Homo sapiens: one gene and its partners. The protein of the gene in region 3 interacts with the protein of the main gene of each other region in a biochemical or structural test. Each region holds a gene or a part of one and is shown on either strand. Other genes may lie near its edges.

What was found. The genes of interacting proteins can lie anywhere in the genome.
Region 1: the proteins of TSR1 (region 3) and RIOK1 are reported together in a solved structure, tested with the Homo sapiens proteins (one study listed by BioGRID).
Region 2: the proteins of TSR1 (region 3) and SLX9 are reported together in a solved structure, tested with the Homo sapiens proteins (one study listed by BioGRID).

Annotation. Positions count from the first base shown.
Region 1 is NC_000006.12:7,392,796-7,399,828, forward strand, and holds part of RIOK1 (serine/threonine-protein kinase RIO1), read left to right. Parts: exon of another isoform or gene 1-67; coding exon of another isoform or gene 68-174; intron 175-303; coding exon 304-508; intron 509-2,225; exon of another isoform or gene 2,226-2,257; coding exon 2,258-2,348; intron 2,349-3,907; coding exon 3,908-3,977; intron 3,978-5,902; coding exon 5,903-5,945; intron 5,946-7,033. UniProt on the Homo sapiens protein: Involved in the final steps of cytoplasmic maturation of the 40S ribosomal subunit. Involved in processing of 18S-E pre-rRNA to the mature 18S rRNA. Required for the recycling of NOB1 and PNO1 from the late 40S precursor.
Region 2 is NC_000021.9:44,964,017-44,971,049, forward strand, and holds part of SLX9 (ribosome biogenesis protein SLX9 homolog), read left to right. Parts: intron 1-3,017; coding exon 3,018-3,165; intron 3,166-7,033. UniProt on the Homo sapiens protein: May be involved in ribosome biogenesis.
Region 3 is NC_000017.11:2,321,895-2,326,489, reverse strand, and holds the end of TSR1 (pre-rRNA-processing protein TSR1 homolog), read left to right. Parts: intron 1-1,069; coding exon 1,070-1,186; intron 1,187-1,225; exon of another isoform or gene 1,226-1,660; coding exon 1,661-1,801; exon of another isoform or gene 1,802-1,911; coding exon 1,912-1,986; exon of another isoform or gene 1,987-2,115; coding exon 2,116-2,294; 3' UTR 2,295-2,616; coding exon of another isoform or gene 2,617-2,835; 3' UTR 2,836-3,144; coding exon of another isoform or gene 3,145-3,354; 3' UTR 3,355-4,094; downstream 4,095-4,595. Other genes in the region: SRR (serine racemase), read right to left, coding at 2,617-2,835, 3,145-3,354. UniProt on the Homo sapiens protein: Required during maturation of the 40S ribosomal subunit in the nucleolus.

The DNA.
Region 1 (7,033 bases), on a different chromosome or scaffold from region 3:
GTTTATTCAGCAGAGAAGATAACAATATAATTTCTAACTTTAACAAGGCAGAAGCAGATTTAACTTGATGTGCTTCTTGAATAGTAGGCTTTGGGCATGGAGAATGAGCAAACAACTGCAACAGAACTGGAAAACAGGAGAACATGGTTTTAAGGAGATGGAGCTTATCGGAAGGTGTATTTTATATAAATATATAATCTTTTAGATTTATCAATATTTTAATATCTTACATCATAAATATGTGAGATCAGTTAGGGTATGTGGAAATATTGTTATGAAATAATAAAACATTGTTATTTCTAGTGAAAACAGAGACTTGAAGACAGTCAAAGAGAAGGATGACATTCTGTTTGAAGACCTTCAAGACAATGTGAATGAGAATGGTGAAGGTGAAATAGAAGATGAGGAGGAGGAGGGTTATGACGATGATGATGATGACTGGGACTGGGATGAAGGAGTTGGAAAACTCGCCAAGGGTTATGTCTGGAATGGAGGAAGCAACCCACAGGTATTTTATAAAGGATCCTGCACATCTTTATGTAGTCTGCTTATGTCTACTTTTTTAAAAGGCTGTTTTGTGATTCTGAAATTGAATAACTAAAAGATTTTCTTCATGTTATATTGTCCTGTAGCCTCAGCCTTTACTGATTTTCACTTTTCATCCTTTCTGTATTTCTGATAATTTCCTGGGTGTGGATTCTTTCCAGAATCTGTAAATTTAAAAAGAGTTATAAAGATTGTGAGCTTAAAATCTTCATGGGAAAGGGCATGGATTGGCAGTTTACTACAAATAGTTAAGAAACATGGTAAAAAAGTTCAGCCTCATTGGTAATTAAAGAAATGCAGATTAAATTTGTAGAGATGCCGTTTTTTCACCTGTGAAACTGTTAAAGACAAAACATATCATTGATGGTCAAGTAAATAGGTGCACTTACTTGTAGGATAAGCTGGTATGTGATAAAAACTTTAAAAGCTTCAAAATACTTTGACTTAGCGATTCTGTGAGTGTGCCAAGACTTAGTTACAAGAATGATCCTCCAGGATTGTTTATGGTAGAGGAACATTGGAAGCAACCTTGAACGGGATTAAACCTGCTATGGGACTGATTCGCACAATGAGGCATTATACAGCCATAAAAGATGTTGTAATGGAAGACTGTATTAATGAGATAGGAATATGTTTGTGATTATTTACCATGTACAAAAAAAAGTTACCAAACCACGTACAGCTGCTGCTCATACTGGAAGTACCAAGTGTGTTAGGAGTTTGTAAGGCCATAGGATTAACATGGTACATCTTCCTGGAGCATAAAGGTTAATCCAGCAGTCTTCCTTTGACCATTAAAATGGCTATATCGGCTGGGCGCAGTGGCTCCTGCCTCTAATCCCAGCACTTTGGGAGGCCGAGCTGGGCGGATCACCTGAGATCAGGAGTTTGAGACCAGCCTGGCCAACATGGCGAAACCCTGTCTCTACTAAAAACACAAAAATTAGCCGGGCGTGGTGGTGGGTGCCTGTAATCCCAGCTACTCGGGAGGCTGAGGCTGGAGAATCGCCTGAACCCAGGAGGCGGAGGTTGCAGTGAGCCAAGATCACACCACTGCACTCCAGCCTGGGCAACAGAGCGAGACTCTGTCTGTAAAAAACAACAACAATAAAATGGCTATATCATGGACCAGAATGTGTGCATTTTAAAATAACCACATTGTGAGTGACGACAAATTTTGCATTTTTATATCGTCTTGTTCTGGTGACTCCTTCACTGATTCATAATGAGGCTTTGAGCAATTTCATTATTGAAGTTTGCGCATAGCACCAGCGTAAGTGCTGAGCCTCGTACTTAATATTTCCCTCTCTTGAGACATTGGGCCCAAAATGAAATTCTGAACCAGCTTAATGCTGGTCTTAGCTCTTTATTATATACTTTGGGGGTAAATGAACATTCTCAAATTTTAAGTCTATAAACCAGTCAAATTAGAAAACTACACTTAATTTTAATCTGTTACTTATAATAAGAGGAATCATAGAGAAGTTAAAAAAACGGATTATGCAGACTCTTTTAGTCAGTAATTTTAACCTTCTGTTTCAAATGCTCTTTAAAAAATTTTTTGAGCCAATTTGATTGACTCTTACCTTTCCTTAAGATACTCCTCTAAGTATTGATGCTTTAATAGCTAAGTATGAACTAAGGAAATGTGATGATGAATCTTAGGTTTGTTTTTACAGCTAGTGCCTTAGACTCTGGAATTCCCTTCTAGGCAAATCGACAGACCTCCGACAGCAGTTCAGCCAAAATGTCTACTCCAGCAGACAAGGTCTTACGGAAATTTGAGAATAAAATTAATTTAGGTGAGTTTACAAAATACATCACTGGGCTAAGAGGACATTTTTCAAAAACCATGGAGTGTTGTATAATTTTATTAGATCAAGAAATGAAGGCTGGCCGTGGTGGCTCACGCCTGTAATCCCGGCACTTTGGGAGGCTGAAGTGGGTGGATCACCTGAGGTCAGGAGTTTGAGACCAGCCTGACCAACATAGTGAAACCCTATCTCTACTAAAAATACAAAATTAGCTGGGCGTGGTGGCACATGCCTGTAATCCCAGCTACTTGGGAGGCTGAGGCAGGAGAATCCCTTGAACCTGGGAGGTGGAGGTTGTGATGAGCCGAGATTGTGCCGTTGCACTCCAACCTGGACAATAAGGGCAAAATTCCATCTCAAAAAAAAAAAAAAAGAAAAAAGGAATGAATGTATTCAAGTGTTACTAACTCAATAATGTTTAGAGAAAATAAAAATCGTAATTTAAAAACATAACTTTAGGAAAAGACTTAAGCTTATGCTATTTTGGTTGTTTTCCCACTTGCCATAGGAATGTAATGTTACAAAAACCCATTTAAGTATTGTCTGTTCGGTTTTAGGTTTTTTTTTTTTTTGAGACAGGGTCTCACTCTGTCACCCAGGCTAGAGTGCAGTGGCACGATCTTGGCTCACTCCAACCCTGATTTCTGGGGTTCAGACGATCCTCCCACCTTAGCCTCCCAAGTAGCTAGGACCACAGGTGCACACCACCACACCCGGCCAATTTTTATTTTCTGTAGAGACGGGGTTTCTCCATGTTGACCAGGCTGGTTTTGAACTCCTGAGCTCAAGTGATCTGTCCGCCTCAGCCTCCCAAAATGTTGGGATTACAGGTGTGAGCCACTGCGCCTGGCCTGTTTTAGATTTTGTAATAGGGTTATCTCATAGTAGGATGTTGAAAATACTAGAGTATTGAATATAGTTACATACGGTTTCACTAGAGGTTTTTTGTGTAGGTGTTAATTATTTAGTGACCTGTTCGATGCCAGGCATCAGAATGTTAATTTGAATCATCATCTCATAGAAAATGTAAGAGGGATGGAGGGAAGGAAGGAAGGCCATCTTTCTATTCTTGTGGATCTTCACTCTAAACCTAACACAGTGTTTCTCATATAAGCTGTCAATACATGCTAAATTAATATAAGTATTTTAGGGCCTTCTTTGCCTATCATAGACTTATAACTTGAAGTGAAACAAGTTTTTAGAATTAAACTTGAAATTCAGGCAGTTTTATTAGTCATGTGGAGTACTAGCAAGTGTCTGAAATTTATTATGCAAATTATTATCTTTGAAGAATTTCTGCATCTAGAATTCTGTGGCTCAAATATTATAGCTGTAGTGATGAAAGTGACACTTACGAAGGAAACGCAGTTTAGTGCCTACTTTTAAAAACATTACATTGTTTTCATTACTAAACTGTATTCTATTTACAATAAAACATTTAGAAAGTGTAGAAGAGAAGGAAGAGGGGAGAAATACCCTGTTCAGCAACTCTGTTAATGTCTTTTCGTCTTACATATTGTTTACATTGTGGGTTTCTTGTATTTTAGATAAGCTAAATGTTACTGATTCCGTCATAAATAAAGTCACCGAAAAGTCTAGACAAAAGGAAGCAGATATGTAAGTAATATTTTAATAATATGCATGGGTGATAAGGACTAATCTAGATTAAGCAGCACCTTGATCATAATTCTTTTACAGAGGATGTTCATTTGTATACTTAAACCAATCATTATTTTGGTGTGTGTGTGTGTGTGTGTGTGTGTGTTTTCCTTAGCTTAAATTAGGATAACCTATGCCTTTGTGAATTAAAAATATTAATGAATCTTGGCTGGGTGTGGTGGCTCATGCCTGTAATCCCATCACTTCAGAAGGCCGAGCTGTGGGGATCACTTGAGGCCAGGAGTTTGAGACCAGCCTGGCCAACATGGTGAAACCATGTCTGTACAAAAAATACAAAAATTAGCCAGACATGGTGGTGCACGCCTGTAATCCCAGCTACTCAGGAGGCTGAGGTGTGAGAATCTCTTGAACCTGGGAGGTGGAGGTTGCAGTGAGCCAAGATCGTGCCACTGCACTCCAGCCTGGGCCACAGAGCGAGACTCCATCTCAAAAATAAATACATAAAATAAAAATTAATGAATTTTAAGAAATACATGGTAAAAGTGTAATCTCATGAAATTTACAAATGTGTTCTTATGAGGGGAACAGTGTTTGTAGATTTCAGTTTAAACTAAAATGTGCAAAAATGTTCCCTTAAAATTTATTAAGAATTATTCTTTCCCATGAAGTATTTTTAAAAATTTAAGGGAAGACTATGAACTAATGATATAACTGAGAACTGTTTCTGTTTACACTTCTGTTCTCAAAGCCAATTGTTTAAGATCTGAATAACTTCTCTTATATGCTAATAACTCTAAAGTATTATCACTATATTATAGAAAACGACACTAAGATCATACAACTAACTGTGAGAATTGAACGTAAAAGCCAGCTTTCTTCCAATTTATTGCTATGTCCAAGAGGTATCAGCTTTTTGAGATACACCATAGTTATTTGTTATTTCACTGGTATCTGTTTGAATCTTTGTGTTTAAACCTTTATTAGTTTAGGTTAGTGTGCTAGGTGGAGTCACTCAGTGTATAAGCAGAAGCAAATCAGAGTCTGCATTTGAATACTGTCTTGAAACGATTTTAAAAAACAAAACTGCCAGGTGCAGTGGCTCACGCCTGTAATCCCAGCACTTTGGGAGGCAGAGGCGGGCGGATCACAAGGTCAGGAGATCGAGACCATCTTGGCTAACAAGGTGAAATCCTGTCTCTACTAAAAATACAAAAAAATTAGCCGGGCTTGGCGGCGGGCGCCTGTAGTCCCAGCTACTCGGGAGGCTGAGGCAGGAGAATGGCGTGAACCCGGGAGGCAGAGCTTGCAGTGAGCCGAGATCGTGCCACTGCACTCCAGCCTGGGCGACAGAGCGAGACTCCATCTCAAAACAAACAAACAAAAACAAAAACAAAAAAACTTGTATCTTCTTAGAAAATGCCTCTAAACAGAAAGCCTTGTAAATGACTAACTCTATGTGGAGGCTGGGGCAGGAGGAATACTTGAGCCCAGGAGTCTATGCCTAGCCTGGGCAACATAGTAAGATGCTGTCTCTTTAAAAAAAAAAAAGAAGACAAGACTTTAATTGTGTGCTAACAGAATCATTAAAGATGTGAAGGACAGTACAAATATACTCAATGTTTTCTCTTTTTCAGCATAGTTCACTTTACCCTGGCGGCTCTTTGATGCTTCTGAAATAGGAATAGATTTTTCTTTTTACTGTATACATACTCCTTTTGCCAAAATACAGAATTGAATTTTGGTATTCAGGGGAAATGAAGAAAGTTTCACTGAGTAATGAAAAATCTACAATCATATCATAAAATCTGTTATTTAGAGAAACTACCTACTTAGGAATTTTCATGAAATTATCTACATTTAGAAGATTTTGGCTTCTCACTGAATTTTGAATGTGTCAACTATACGTTTTTGTTTTTGGTTAGGTATCGCATCAAAGATAAGGCAGACAGAGCAACTGTAGAACAGGTACAATTTAAATGTGTTGCAAACTCTTCTTTTTAATTAGCATTTCTTCTCTCTTTGAATTGTAGTTTGCTTTTATCCTTTTTGCTTAATGCTAATGTTACCTAAAATTACTCCTATATAAAATTATTCCTTTTTATAGTTTCGAGTTTAGAGACCTACATCTTGCTTTTATAGGACTATTGGATGAATTAGAGTCATGGTCCTTCAGTGGCCTTGCAGAGCCACCATGCGATGCTTTCCCTTCTTGGAGAGATTATCAGACCAGCAATCTTTTAGAAAAGGTCCGTAGGAATTTTGTGAGCTTTCCCAGAAGATAGGTAGGGTATCTGCCACAAAGCAGGAAGTGTGGGTGTAAAAGAGAGAGGGGCAGATAATGTCTTCAAATTTCCAGTTAGGAATCCTTTGTTTAGAAATTATGCTTGTTTTATTCTTTCTATTCAAGAATGGGGAAAAATTGGCCCCTAATTTTCCCACATTCCGAAGAATGTGATTGGATATTAGCCTTGGCCCAGATTTTTGATGTGAAGAAAGTGATAAAAAGAGTCAGAACATTTGCCTCTGCCACCTACCACTCCTTTCCACCACCCCCTCCCATATACACAAGCACATGTTCTGAATTCCACCATTAGACAGAAGCCGGGTCTGTGGTCTGTGTCTTCATTGTCCCCTAGTTTATTTTGTGATTTATTTCTGTAATTGAAAACAAAGTATGGTTCACCTCGGAAAAATGAGATAGCCTTAAGTTTCAAAGACCCTAAATAACTTTAGGGTTATTTTTGGCAGGAAATTCTTTTTCTCTTTCAAAATTAATTTTGAATGATAGAGTACATAGCTGGAGTCTTCAGCTGTCTATATAAAATATATGCTTGTGTGTAAATTTATCATTTCTCTTTCCCTGTTTTGTTCTTAAGCCATCTGGTTTGTTACTTCTTCCTATGCCCCTGACTTGTCTAACTGCCAACTTCGCAGAAGCACAGTTCTGTACCTAGAGGCCCATACTCAGCCAGCTGACTTCCCCTCTTTGCTTACCTGTGCAGTAGAGAAGAAATGGAAACTAGTGCCTTTTCATTCTTCTCTAGTTGCAATGG
Region 2 (7,033 bases), on a different chromosome or scaffold from region 3:
AGCAAAGCAGATCTTCAAATTCATGAACATAGTATATCTCACCATTTAAATTTCATCATCAATGTTATTCAGTTTTAGTGTAGAGATCTTACATCTTATAATAAGCTTATTGCTAAGTATTTTATAGTTTTTTATGCTGTCATAAATGCAGTTTTTTCTCAGCTCTCTGCTAGTATGTTAAAATACAATTGGTTTTTTAAAATACTAATCTTGTATCCTATGAATTTACTAATATCATGCATTAGGTCTGGTAGTCATTTTGTAGATTCCTTAGGATCTTTAGAAATGCATGTTTTCTGTATGTGTGGATTTTTTCCCTCAATTTGCTTTTTTTCCCCAATATGTGTTGAAATTTCCCCTGTGGATCTGCACGCGCCACCCCACCTTGCCTTTATGAGGACAAGCTTGCAAAGTTTGTCCTTGCTGTTCCTCCCGTTGCAGGGCCCTCCCACTCCTGGAGGCCTCCCCCGGTCACTCTCCATCCCTTGCTTTGCTTTGTTTTGTCCACATACCTCCCCAGTGCCCAGGTAGCGCCTCTATGCTCCACCACACAGCCTGTGCCCCAGCCGTGCCGTGGACAGTGGCTCCCCATGCCCTGTGGGCGGGAGGGTGGGTAGTTGGAACCACACACATGTCCCACTTGACTTTCCCAACCCTCAGTTGTCCTCCAAGGCGGCTGGGCCAGTTCACACCCACCCATCAGCTCCCTCCGTCCTCGAACACTCGATATTATGAAACATTTAAAAATTTGCCAGTCTATGAGGTGCAACATTTCCTTGATTTCTAATCCAGTCGAGTGGCTCCTGCTGTATTTTTTGGCCTTTGATTCCTCTTTGTTTTTAGTATTTAATTCATACATACTGATTTTTAGGAACAGTGTGAGAGGGACTCTGACTCTTTCCCCAGGAGGACCCCAGTTTATCTAACCTCACGTGTCATGCTCACACTTTGCCTGGTCTGCCCTGCGTCCACTGAGTGTTCATCAGCACTTTTGCCACGCTGTTAATTTCTGTTATTTTATAATTTGCTTTAATATCCGATAGCCCTACTTTCTTGTTGCTTGTTCTTTGTAAAAAATGTTTTTACTATTCTTATGCATTTAGTTGTTTTTAAAACATAAAGTTTAGAATTAGCTGCACAGGTTTGACTAAAAATCCCGTTGAAATTTTAGCTGAGGCAGCATCCGATTTTTCCGGAGTAACTGACAGAGAAGAACTGCACTCTCCCGTTGGTTCTCCTGGCTGCTTGGAAGCTGGTGTTTGTGTGGGACCTCCCCTAGGTGCTGCAGATGAGAGCAGTGCTGAGTGTTCCCAGGCCGTGGGTCCCGCCCCGCCACTGCCTCGCTCCCTCCCTCCCCCTCAGAATTGAGTGGGCCGGGTGGGATTGTCGATATTGTGGTCATCTTTTCCTTGCTCGGATTTATCATTGAGTGTCTAATGTTTTGCCCTGAAATGTGATACTCACTGTGGGTTTCTAGCAGCTCATCTGTCAAGGAGCTTCCTTCCGTTTGTGGTTTCATTGTAATTTTTCTCATGCGTGGGCAGTGAATTGTGCAGAATCCTCTGCACACTGGTGGTGGTGACCATAGGCTTTCTTGCCTCTTGAGTGGCCACTGTGGAGGGTCACCCTGAGGCATTTCCCGGGAGAACCATCCTTGCATGCCTGGGGCTCACCCTGCTTGGGCACAAGGTATCCTTCTTTTGAAAGGCTTCTGGCTTTGGCTTGCTGAGGTGCGGGCCTTTGTGTCTGTCCTCACGGGAACCACATGCCTCTGCTTTGCTTTTCCTGGCCTGGGTCTGCAGCCTGTGAAGGAGCCATCTGGCCTGGCCCGCCCCTCCCTACCCCAGCTTCCAGGGTGCCCTGGCTCTCTTTTAATGAGGTGCCGAGTAACGTGTCTACCACAGTCCAGGCAGGGTGGAGTAAGCGCTGGATTCTTACCTTATAAACCCCCGTGATTCCCAAGGCTGTGGAGAGCTGGTGTACACCTTCCAAGCTCTCAACCTGCACTGGGGGCTGAGGACCCAGAGGAAGGGTGGTCTTTGTCCCAGGTTCTTGTCAGTGATTTGGAGCCAGGTAAACACACCCTGCTACAGGGACCCAGGGCAGGGTGGCATCCCCTGATTTCGGGTTGGTCAGGGTGGGCCCTTCACACCTTGTTCTGCGAGCCACCTGCCCTGGGGGCTGAGAGGGGCGCCGCTGTCCCAGACAGCGGGATTGGAGAGGAGCTGGCTGTTGTCACCTCTGGAAACCTGGGCATTCCCCCCAGGGGGCACAGGTCTGCCATGCCCGGGCCTGTGTCACGAGCTGGCAGTGTTTGAGCTGCAGGCCTGTCCCGGTGGGTTGCCCTGAAGAGAGCAGGCCGTCCGCGCTCCACAGCCTCCAGGAGCCACGTGCAGTGAGCAGCATGTCCGAGCATGTGTTCTCTTAGCAGTTTTGAGATAAATACATTTTTAAATTAAATCAAATCCCAAGGCCATACCCCTTCTGTCCAGACCCTGCCCAAATCCCTTCTCTAGCGTGGAGGCCTCAGCCCTACCTGCCACCCCCCATGGCCCCAAGCCCTCAGGTCTGTCCTGGGGCTTCTCCCCTTCCCTCTGGGGAGCCCTCTCCCTCCTGGGAACAAAGCTGAGCCTCCCAGGCTGTGACTTGCCATCTTAAGTTGAGGGCCCCTTTTCCTCATTCCCCTCTGTCCCCTCTGCTCGGTGGCTGTGTGCACTCCCCTACGCGTGCTCCGGCCACAGTTGCCAGCGTCCCTTTGCAGGAGAAATCCTCAGTGGCTGCAGTTCCACCTCATTGTCAGCCCTGCGATTAAAAAGCGCAGCTCTGTCATTAAGGGGAAGAAAATAACTCAAGCCTGCCCGCCCTGCAGGTTCCCAGGGGCGGAATGGGGGTGACAGCGGGAAGGAGAGAGGCAGCAGGGCCGGGCACCCTGCCAGGTCTCTCGTGGGCCAGAGGCTCTGGGCCTGGGCTCCTCCTCTGCCTCTTGTTTGCCTCTAACGTCGTTTCTCCTTCCTTAGAAATCGAAGCCATAAAACTGGCTGAGCAGAAGCACAGGGAGGAGCGGAGGCGGAGGGCCACGGTGGTGGTGGGGGACCTGCACCCTCTCAGGGATGCCCTGCCCGAGCTGCTGGGGCTCGAGGCTGGCAGCCGGCGCCAAGCCCGCAGGTGAGTGTCCGGGAGGGGTGGCCCTTTCCGAGCTGTGGGGCTGACCCGGGTCCAGAGGTGGAGGGATATGAGTGGGAGCCACGGGCCACGGTGCTTCCTGAGCCTGCAGAGGCCGAGAGCTGGGGCTCCAGCCGGTGCTCCGCACAGGTACCCTGTTCTCAGGGCGTGAGCTCGTGAGGCCCGTGGGGGCTGTGGGGGACGTTTCGGGGGCACCCAGGCCCACCCTTGTGAGGAGCCTGGTGGCTCTGCTGATGCCGAGCTCCCTCATGTGCCCCTCCCCCGACATTGACCACAGCTCCTGCCGGGTCCCACTGGGGGTCCCCCCAACTCACTGTTCTGCCACAGCCTCCACCCCACAGAGACCCTGCTGTGCTCAGCTGAGGCCCCTGAGCATCCACCATGCTCTTCTCGTGCCTCTGACAGGGGCTGCAGTCTCCCCTCCTGAGTGGACCTTTCCCTGATGCCCACCTAACACTGCACACCCTGTCCTGCCCCTCACTCTGTCGCACAGAGGGTGGCCCGTGAGGACGGCTCAGGCCTGCTGTCGGGTGTGGTGAGCGTGTGGGACCCACTCATGCAGGGCCCTGGGACACACATCCCAGAGCTTGTCCTCATGGGGCGGGAGCTGCCTCGTGCGTCCTCCCCAGGAGGGACGGGGCCTGATGTGAGTGCGGTTGCTCTCCCGAGCTGTACCTACCTGTGTGGGAAGCACATGCCTCCCAGCCTCACCACGGGTCTGGATGTGGTTTGTTCTTCAGGAAAGAGGCAGGCCCCTGCCCCACCCTTGGCTGCTGGCATCACAGCGCCCCTCCCCCGCCCCCTGCTGAGAGCTGGGGTGGTGGGTTCTGGGCCCTTAGTGCATGAGTGGCCAAGCCAGCGGGCCTGGGCCTGGGCCTGGACCCCAGTGGGGCCCCTCCACCCCCCTGCCCTGGGCAAGGCCTGGTCCCGAGCATGAGCCCTCCTCCTGACGCACTGAGGTGCTCCCTCCAGAACCCCATCACCCAGTGACACAACCCCGCCACCCAGTGACGCAACCCCCAGTGACACAACCCTGCCACCCGGTGACGCAACCCCCAGTGACACAACCCCCAGTGACGCAACCCCGCCACCCAATGAAGATACCACCACCCGGTGACGCAACCCCACCACCCATTGAGCCATTTGCCAGTGGCAGGTTCCATGTGCCCTGACAATGTGGACAGTGTTCCATGTGCCAGCCTGCTGTGGTGTGTGCACCCCAGGACGGCTCAACCAGGAGGGCAGCGGCTGCATGACCCTCCCTGTCACCTCGCAGGGGATGCAGCCTGCTGATAAGCTGCTGCCTGTGGCGCCCGTCTCCCAGGAGCTTGGCTTTCAGGCTCTTTGTGCCTGGGTCACATGCACGTGAAAGGAGAGCAGCCTCTGCCCTTCCCCTGTGGCTGGAAGGCACCACCCAGGTGTGGGTGCTGAGGCTCTGGGCTCAGGCGGGGGCTGTGTAGCCACAGCCCAGCTTTCAGGGCTGGAAAGAGGCCGGACCACTCTGTTCTGTCTCAGCTTCTGGGCCTTCCTCATTCATTTGTGTCATCTCTGTGCTTTTTTTTTTTTTTTTTGGAGACGGAGCCTTGCTCTGTCCCCCAGGCTGGAGTGCAGTGGCACGATCTTGGCTCACTGCAAGCTCCGCCTCCTGGGTTCACACCATTCTCCTGCCTCAGCCTCCCAAGTAGGTGGGACTACAGGCGCCCGCCACCATACCTGGCTAATTTTTTGTATTTTTAGCGGAGACGGGGTTTCACCGTGTTAGCCAGGATGGTCTAGATCTCCTGACCTCGTGATCCAGCCGCCTCGGCCTCCCAAAGTGCTGGGATTACAGGCGTGAGCCACCGCGCCTGGCCTAATTTTGCTGTTTAAAAAATAATTTTCTTTCTCCTACTAACTTTCCATCTGGGCAGAAAGCAGGGGCTGTGTGCAGTGTCAAACCTGGGGTCCATCCTTTCATGGCCCAGCTGCCCAGGCTCGAGGGTGGCAGGTCACGCGCTGCAGGCCCAGGCAGCTCCAGGCTGGCATCCCGCGGCGGAGGCACCAGAGCACTGGGTCCAGAATAGGAGCGGCCGCCCGGAGTGGCGATGTGATGACCGAACATTCCTGGTTCTTGGACAAAAATGTGACCCTGGTCAAGTATCCTTTCCCTGTTTTCAGTTTTCTCATCTGAAAAATGTGCTTGGCGCTCCCAGAAGGGAGAGGGCTGTATCAACACCCAGCCCCCAGGCCGAGGAGGATGTGCCCCTGCCTCCCTGCGGGGCTCTGGGCCGGGAAGGCACATCTGCTCTCAGCCCTGAGAGCCTCCTGTCGCTGGGAGTCCCCGTCCCTCCTCAGATGTGGCTCAGGCAGCAGTGCCTCCTGACCCTGGGGGAGCTCTTGGAATCAGCCCTATTTTAGACAGGCTTTAGATTCGTAGAAAAATGGCAAAGATGGTGCCAAGAGCTCCATGCAGCTCCCCCGTCCCCGCATGCTGTTGCTCTGACATGAGTGTGGTACGTTCGTCACATGGAAGGAACCAGTATCAACAGAGAAATAGTGAGCGTTAAGTAATTAATAGTTAACTAAAGCCCATACCTTAGGTTTCCTTCATTTTTCCCTAACGGACTCTTTCTGCCTCAGGATCCGTACAGGATCCCACGTGACATTCAGATGTCATGGCTCCCTCGGCCCGTCTTGGCTGTGAGTTTCTCAGACTCCTCTTGGTTTTAATGACCTTGACTGTTCTGAGGAAGCTGCCTGTCAGCTGAAGATCTGTCTGATGTTTTTCTAATGGGTACAGGAAGGGACTGGGTTTGGGGAGGAAGCCCCCAGAGGCGAAGTGCCACTGTCACTCCACTGTATTGGGCACACCCTGTCACCTGACTCACCGTGAGGCTGAGCTGGCCCCTGCTGGGTTGAGACCCCCCCTCCATGCTGTCCGCTTTGGGAGGAAGTCGCTCTGCAGCCCTGGCCTCGGGGTGGGGGTTGTGCTCTACCTCCTGGAAGACACAGCAGTGACAGAGACTGTTTGGAATCCTGCTGGGAAAGGAGCTTTGTCTCTTCTCCCCGTGTATGTGTCGCTCATGCGCCGGTGTTGGTCTGGACAGATGGATGTTTAGTTTACACACAGCGTTACTTGATTTTGGTGCCGAAACTGTTCCAGCATTGGCCGCTGGGAGTTCTTGCAGTTGCCCCCAGCTCCCTTTGGCCCCATTGACGTGGGGGTCGTATTTTTAGCTCTTTCCCACTGCCGAGCACCAACAGGTAACCCAGGCGCATCTTGGACATCTCCTGCCAGTCCTGCTGTTTCTCTAGGGAGCCCTGGCCCCTGTATTGCAGGAGGTGTGAGACCCTGAGATCTGGGGCTCGGTGCGCCTGTCCCAGGATCTGGGGTTTGGCGTGCCTGGGCGGCGGGCCGTGTCTCTGGGAACTGCATCTTGGTCCCGGCAGGCAGGTCTGCCCCACTGACCACCACTCTTGGACTCTGATGTGCTTTGGGCTTGAGGGGTCAGCAGGCGAGCACCAGTGGCCTGGGAGGCTGGAGGGTGGACAGCCTCTCCCTCCCAGCCTGGAGCTCTGTCTCTCACTTCTCCCCTTCCCACCTAGTGGGGAGAACATATGGCTTGGGCTGGCAGAGCTGTCCTTGTGGAACCCAAGCATTGGGTCCTTGCCCCACGGCCCCTCCCAACCCTCAGTCCCCTCAGTCCCCTCCCAACCCAGCTCCCTCAATCCCCTGTCCTGGCGCCCTGCCCTGAGGGCCTCATGCCCCTGGGGTGCAGGATGCAGAGCTGGAATCTCAGAGGCCAGGGCAGGGCCCGTGTTTGGGGTCCACGTCACTCCTGGCTGGGAAGCAGGCATCGAGCGACACTTG
Region 3 (4,595 bases):
ATGGAGGCTGGGTATGGCTCATAGTTGGGTAAAGCAGAGGTAGGGGTCCTGAGATACTGAGAGACTACTGGACGGGACTTGCAGCAGAAATGATTGTCTCCTACACAGTAGGAGCAGGAAGATATGTTGCCCACTAACTTGGGGGCTTCTGAACATCGTCCTAGTTCACTCACTCTCAGCAGTGGCAGGAGGAATATGAAGAAAGCAGTATTAATGGTGTTTTGGATAATTTTTATTCTCACCAATTGTGAGAATCACAATCTCTAAGTGAGATTAATTTTTCTTTGCCTTAAAATATTTTATTTTCCTTTAAGTTTAGTATTTTAAAAAGGAGGTGAGGGCTACCTTGAAGGTAGAACATCAAATACAGTCTAGGCTCCAAGATTCTGACTCCAGATAAAAAAGTTACTGATCAGGCACCTGCAATTCCAGCTATTCGGGAGCCTGAGGCAGAAGAATCACTTGAACCTGGGAGGTGGAGGTTGCAGTGAGCAGAGATGGCACCATTGTACTCCAGCCTGGGCAACAAGAGCGAGACACCATCTCAAAATAAATAAATAAATAAAAAGTTACTGATACAGCCTGGCGCGGTGGCTCACGCCTGTAATCCCAGCACTTTGGGAGATTGAGGTGGGTGGATCACAAGGTGAGGAGTTCGAGACCAGCCTGGCCAACATGGTGAAACCCGGTCTCTACTAAAAATACAAAAATTAGCCGGGCGTGGTGGCATGTGCCTGTAATCCCAGCTACTCAGGAGGCTGAGGCAGGAGAACTGCTTGAACCCGGGAGGCAGAGGTTGCAGTCAGCTGAGATCACACCATTGCATTCCAGCCTGGGTGACAGGAACGATACTCAAACTCAAAAAAAAAGAAAAAAAAAAAGTTACTGATAGGACTAGATCGTATCTTTTAGGTGCATTGAGGCAGCGAAAATTTTTGAGAACTGGTGGTTTAGAGAAGTAGAAGCTGCCATAGGTTTAAGAGTTGCACTAATACAGCTTTTCACAGGCCTCTATCACCTCTGGTTTCTCAAAATGGTTTTGCTTTTCATTTTTTAACCCTTATGGCAGCGGACAAACATAAATTGCAGAGATTCCTGACTGCTGACATGGCCCTGGTGGCGACAGTCTATGCGCCAATCACTTTTCCTCCTGCATCTGTGCTGCTTTTCAAGCAAAAAAGCAATGGTAAGTTGAGCCACAGAGATGAACAGACCCTGCAGGTCCTTAATAGATGAACACCGTTTTCTCTTGTTTATTTAAATTTGGGAGCCAAATGGTATGGAGAAGGTAATGATGGTTTTCAAAATACAGTAAGTCTTCATTTAACATTGTTAATAGAACAATGAAAACTCCAACTTTTACGTGAAACAGTGTATAGCCAGTCCTCAAATAACTGCCTTTTGTTCAACATCCTTTCCTTGTAACAACTGATGAGAAAAAGTATGGTTTTGTTATACATCATTTCTCTTGAAGTACAAGTTTTCAAGAACCTATTGACAAGGTTAAGTGTGGGCTTACAGTTTACCAATCTTAGCCTCAGATTGGGCTAGGGCAGGGATGACAAACCAGGCTCTTGCATGGGTCTTTAAATGGACTGGGCAATAAATGAAGACTTTGGCCTGTAAATTCCTAAATAGCTTCTTTGCTTTTGTCCTTTAGGAATGCACAGCCTCATTGCTACAGGCCATCTTATGTCAGTAGATCCAGACAGAATGGTCATCAAGAGAGTTGTTCTGAGTGGTCATCCTTTCAAAATTTTTACTAAGATGGCAGTAGTACGTTACATGTTCTTCAACAGAGGTGGGTATGAAGGAGGAGGATGGGATCTGATTGCCTTTGTGGTATAAAGGTTGGGTTTACATTTTGTGGGTAAATGTTTCATCTTGGTCTTTAATGTGTTTGATTCTAAGAGGATGTGCTGTGGTTTAAACCAGTGGAACTGAGAACGAAGTGGGGCCGGAGAGGACATATCAAGGAACCTTTAGGTAAGGAAACACGGGATTTGAGACCATGTCTGCATTTCTGCAGTGTTGCTAAATGACTGTTGGGTTGGAAGTCATTGCTTTAAAATTTTCTACTTTTAATTTGACCGACTTGTTCTGATGTCTTTCTAGGTACCCATGGCCACATGAAATGCAGCTTTGATGGGAAGCTAAAATCTCAAGACACAGTACTGATGAACCTGTATAAACGAGTCTTCCCCAAATGGACTTATGATCCATATGTACCAGAACCAGTACCCTGGCTGAAAAGTGAGATTTCTTCAACAGTGCCTCAAGGGGGCATGGAGTAATGGATTCAAAGAGATTCTGTCTTACCGGTGCCAGTCAGTACTCCAGGGATGGGAGGCACAAGTTGTGATTGGGCAAAGTTTATTTTCTATGTCAGCCTGTCAGTCCACTGCCCCATTTTGCAAGACTTTTTTTTAGCCTTGACAAAATGTCTCAGTTAAGTATAAAAGTTTTTCCACTACTTAGTCCAAAAAAAACTATTAAATCTTAATGAAATAGCCACTCTCCATTAAGAATCTGATAACTAAGAGTTGACAATACTAGGAAACAAAATGTCTTCAGTATCTAAAGACACTGAATTCCCACCATTTCCTTTTCTGTAAATTAAACAGAAACAGACTGATAAGAAGCTGGCCTTTCAGCCTGCTTCACCCAAGTTATGGAGGAGGTTAAGTCTACATTTCCACCACTGAGCACAATACAAATGTTCTTTACTTCTGGGGAAACAGTTTGAAAATGTTGAGACAGCACAGCAGCCACTCCAACACCAGCTGTAGGTTCAATGAGTAGTTTCATCCTCTCCCACACCAGCTGGGTTGCACACTGTTGATATGGAAGGGAGTAGGAATTAGTGAAAGGGGAGTCTAGTTGGTTTACCTATAAAGTTCAGATGAGAATACGTGTCCAGTTTGAATTTTCTTATCACTGTGTACACACGCTTCCCAAAGCTTTTCTTTAATTCTGACTCTGCTTCTGTCAAGAGGGTTGTCATTAATACATCTAGGGTACCCTCCCATGTCATGAAGTTACCTAGTCAGGTTCCCGTGGGTCACTTGCTACTCCTAAGGGAAGTTTCTTCTGCCTAAGAAGTTACACCATGCTTTGCTATTTCTTTTCTTGCTGGAGCCTCACCTTAATTTCATCCTCTGTGACAGTGAAGATATCATCCACAAGGTCCCTGATAATAGGCCAGGTGTTCAAGCCAATGCTGGATTTGACACCATCTGCTATGGTTTCTGGAGGATAAAGATTGGGCATCAGTTTCCCCTTCAGCTTGGACTGGTAGCAGTCATCTGCATTTGAGGGTTCAGCAGCATATACCTTCACACTAGGTTTCAGAGCCTGGGAAGAGGAATATTAAGACATCTTAACAACAAACCACAACATTGCCTGCATGTCTAAAAGAAAATATGGGCCTGGTGTGGTGGCTCACACCTGTAATCCCAACACTTTGGGAGCCCGAGGCGGGTGGATCAGCTGAGGTCAGGAGTTCAAGACCAGCCTGGCCAACCTGGTGAAATGCAGTGTCAACTAAAAATAGGAAAATCAGCCAGGCGTGGTGGCAGACCCCTGTAATCCCAGCTACTCAAGAGGCTGAGGTAGGAGAATCACTTGAACTTGGGAGGGGTAGGTTGCAGTGAGCTGAGATCACACCAAAATGGGGTGGGGCGCAGTGGCTCACGCCTGTAATCCCAGCACTTTGGGAGGCCGAGGTGGGCGGATCACGAGGTAGGGAGATCAAGACCATCCTGGCTAACACGGTGAAACCCCGTCTCTACTAAAAATACAAAAAAAAAAAACAAAAAAAAACTAGCCAGGCATGGTGGCAGGCACCTGTAGTCCCAGCTACTCGGGAGGCAGAGGCAGGAGAATGGCGTGAACCTGGGAGGTGGAGCTTGCAGTGAGCCAAGATCGTGCCACTGCACTCCAGCCTGGGTGACAGAGTGAGACTCCGTCTCAAAAAAAAAAAGAAAATAGGCACAATAAGTAATACATTTCTGCCCAAGTAAGAGCCTTCCCTTTTGTGGATGTAATGAAAATATCTTCAAGCACTTTATAAATAAATTATATGTCTGATACTAGCCTTCCATTGCCTGGATCACATCTGATTGTCCTGGTAATTTGAGAAAAGGGTAGCCCCTTGGTATGGATAGTAGCTTGATGACATGGAATTCAGGGAAAAGACTATGATGGTGTCACTTGTAACTGCTTTTGTGCTGTAAAATTGTCATGGATTAAGAAGAGAGTTGGCTGGGTGCGGTGGCTCACACCTGTAATCCTAGCACTTTGGGAGGCCAAAGTAAGGACTGCTTGAGCCCAGGAGTTCCAGACCAACCTGGCCAACACAGCAAGACCCCATCTCTTAAAAAAAATAAAAATATTAGAAATAATAAATAGGCCGGGCGCAGTGGCTCACGCCTGTAATCCCAACACTTTGGGAGGCCAAGGCGGGTGGATCGCAAGGTCAGGAGTTCAAGACCAGCCTGACCAACATGGTGAAACCCTGTCTCTACTAAAAAAAATACAAAAAAATTAGCGGGGTGTGGTGGCTCATGCCTGTAATCCCAGCTACTCAGGAGGCT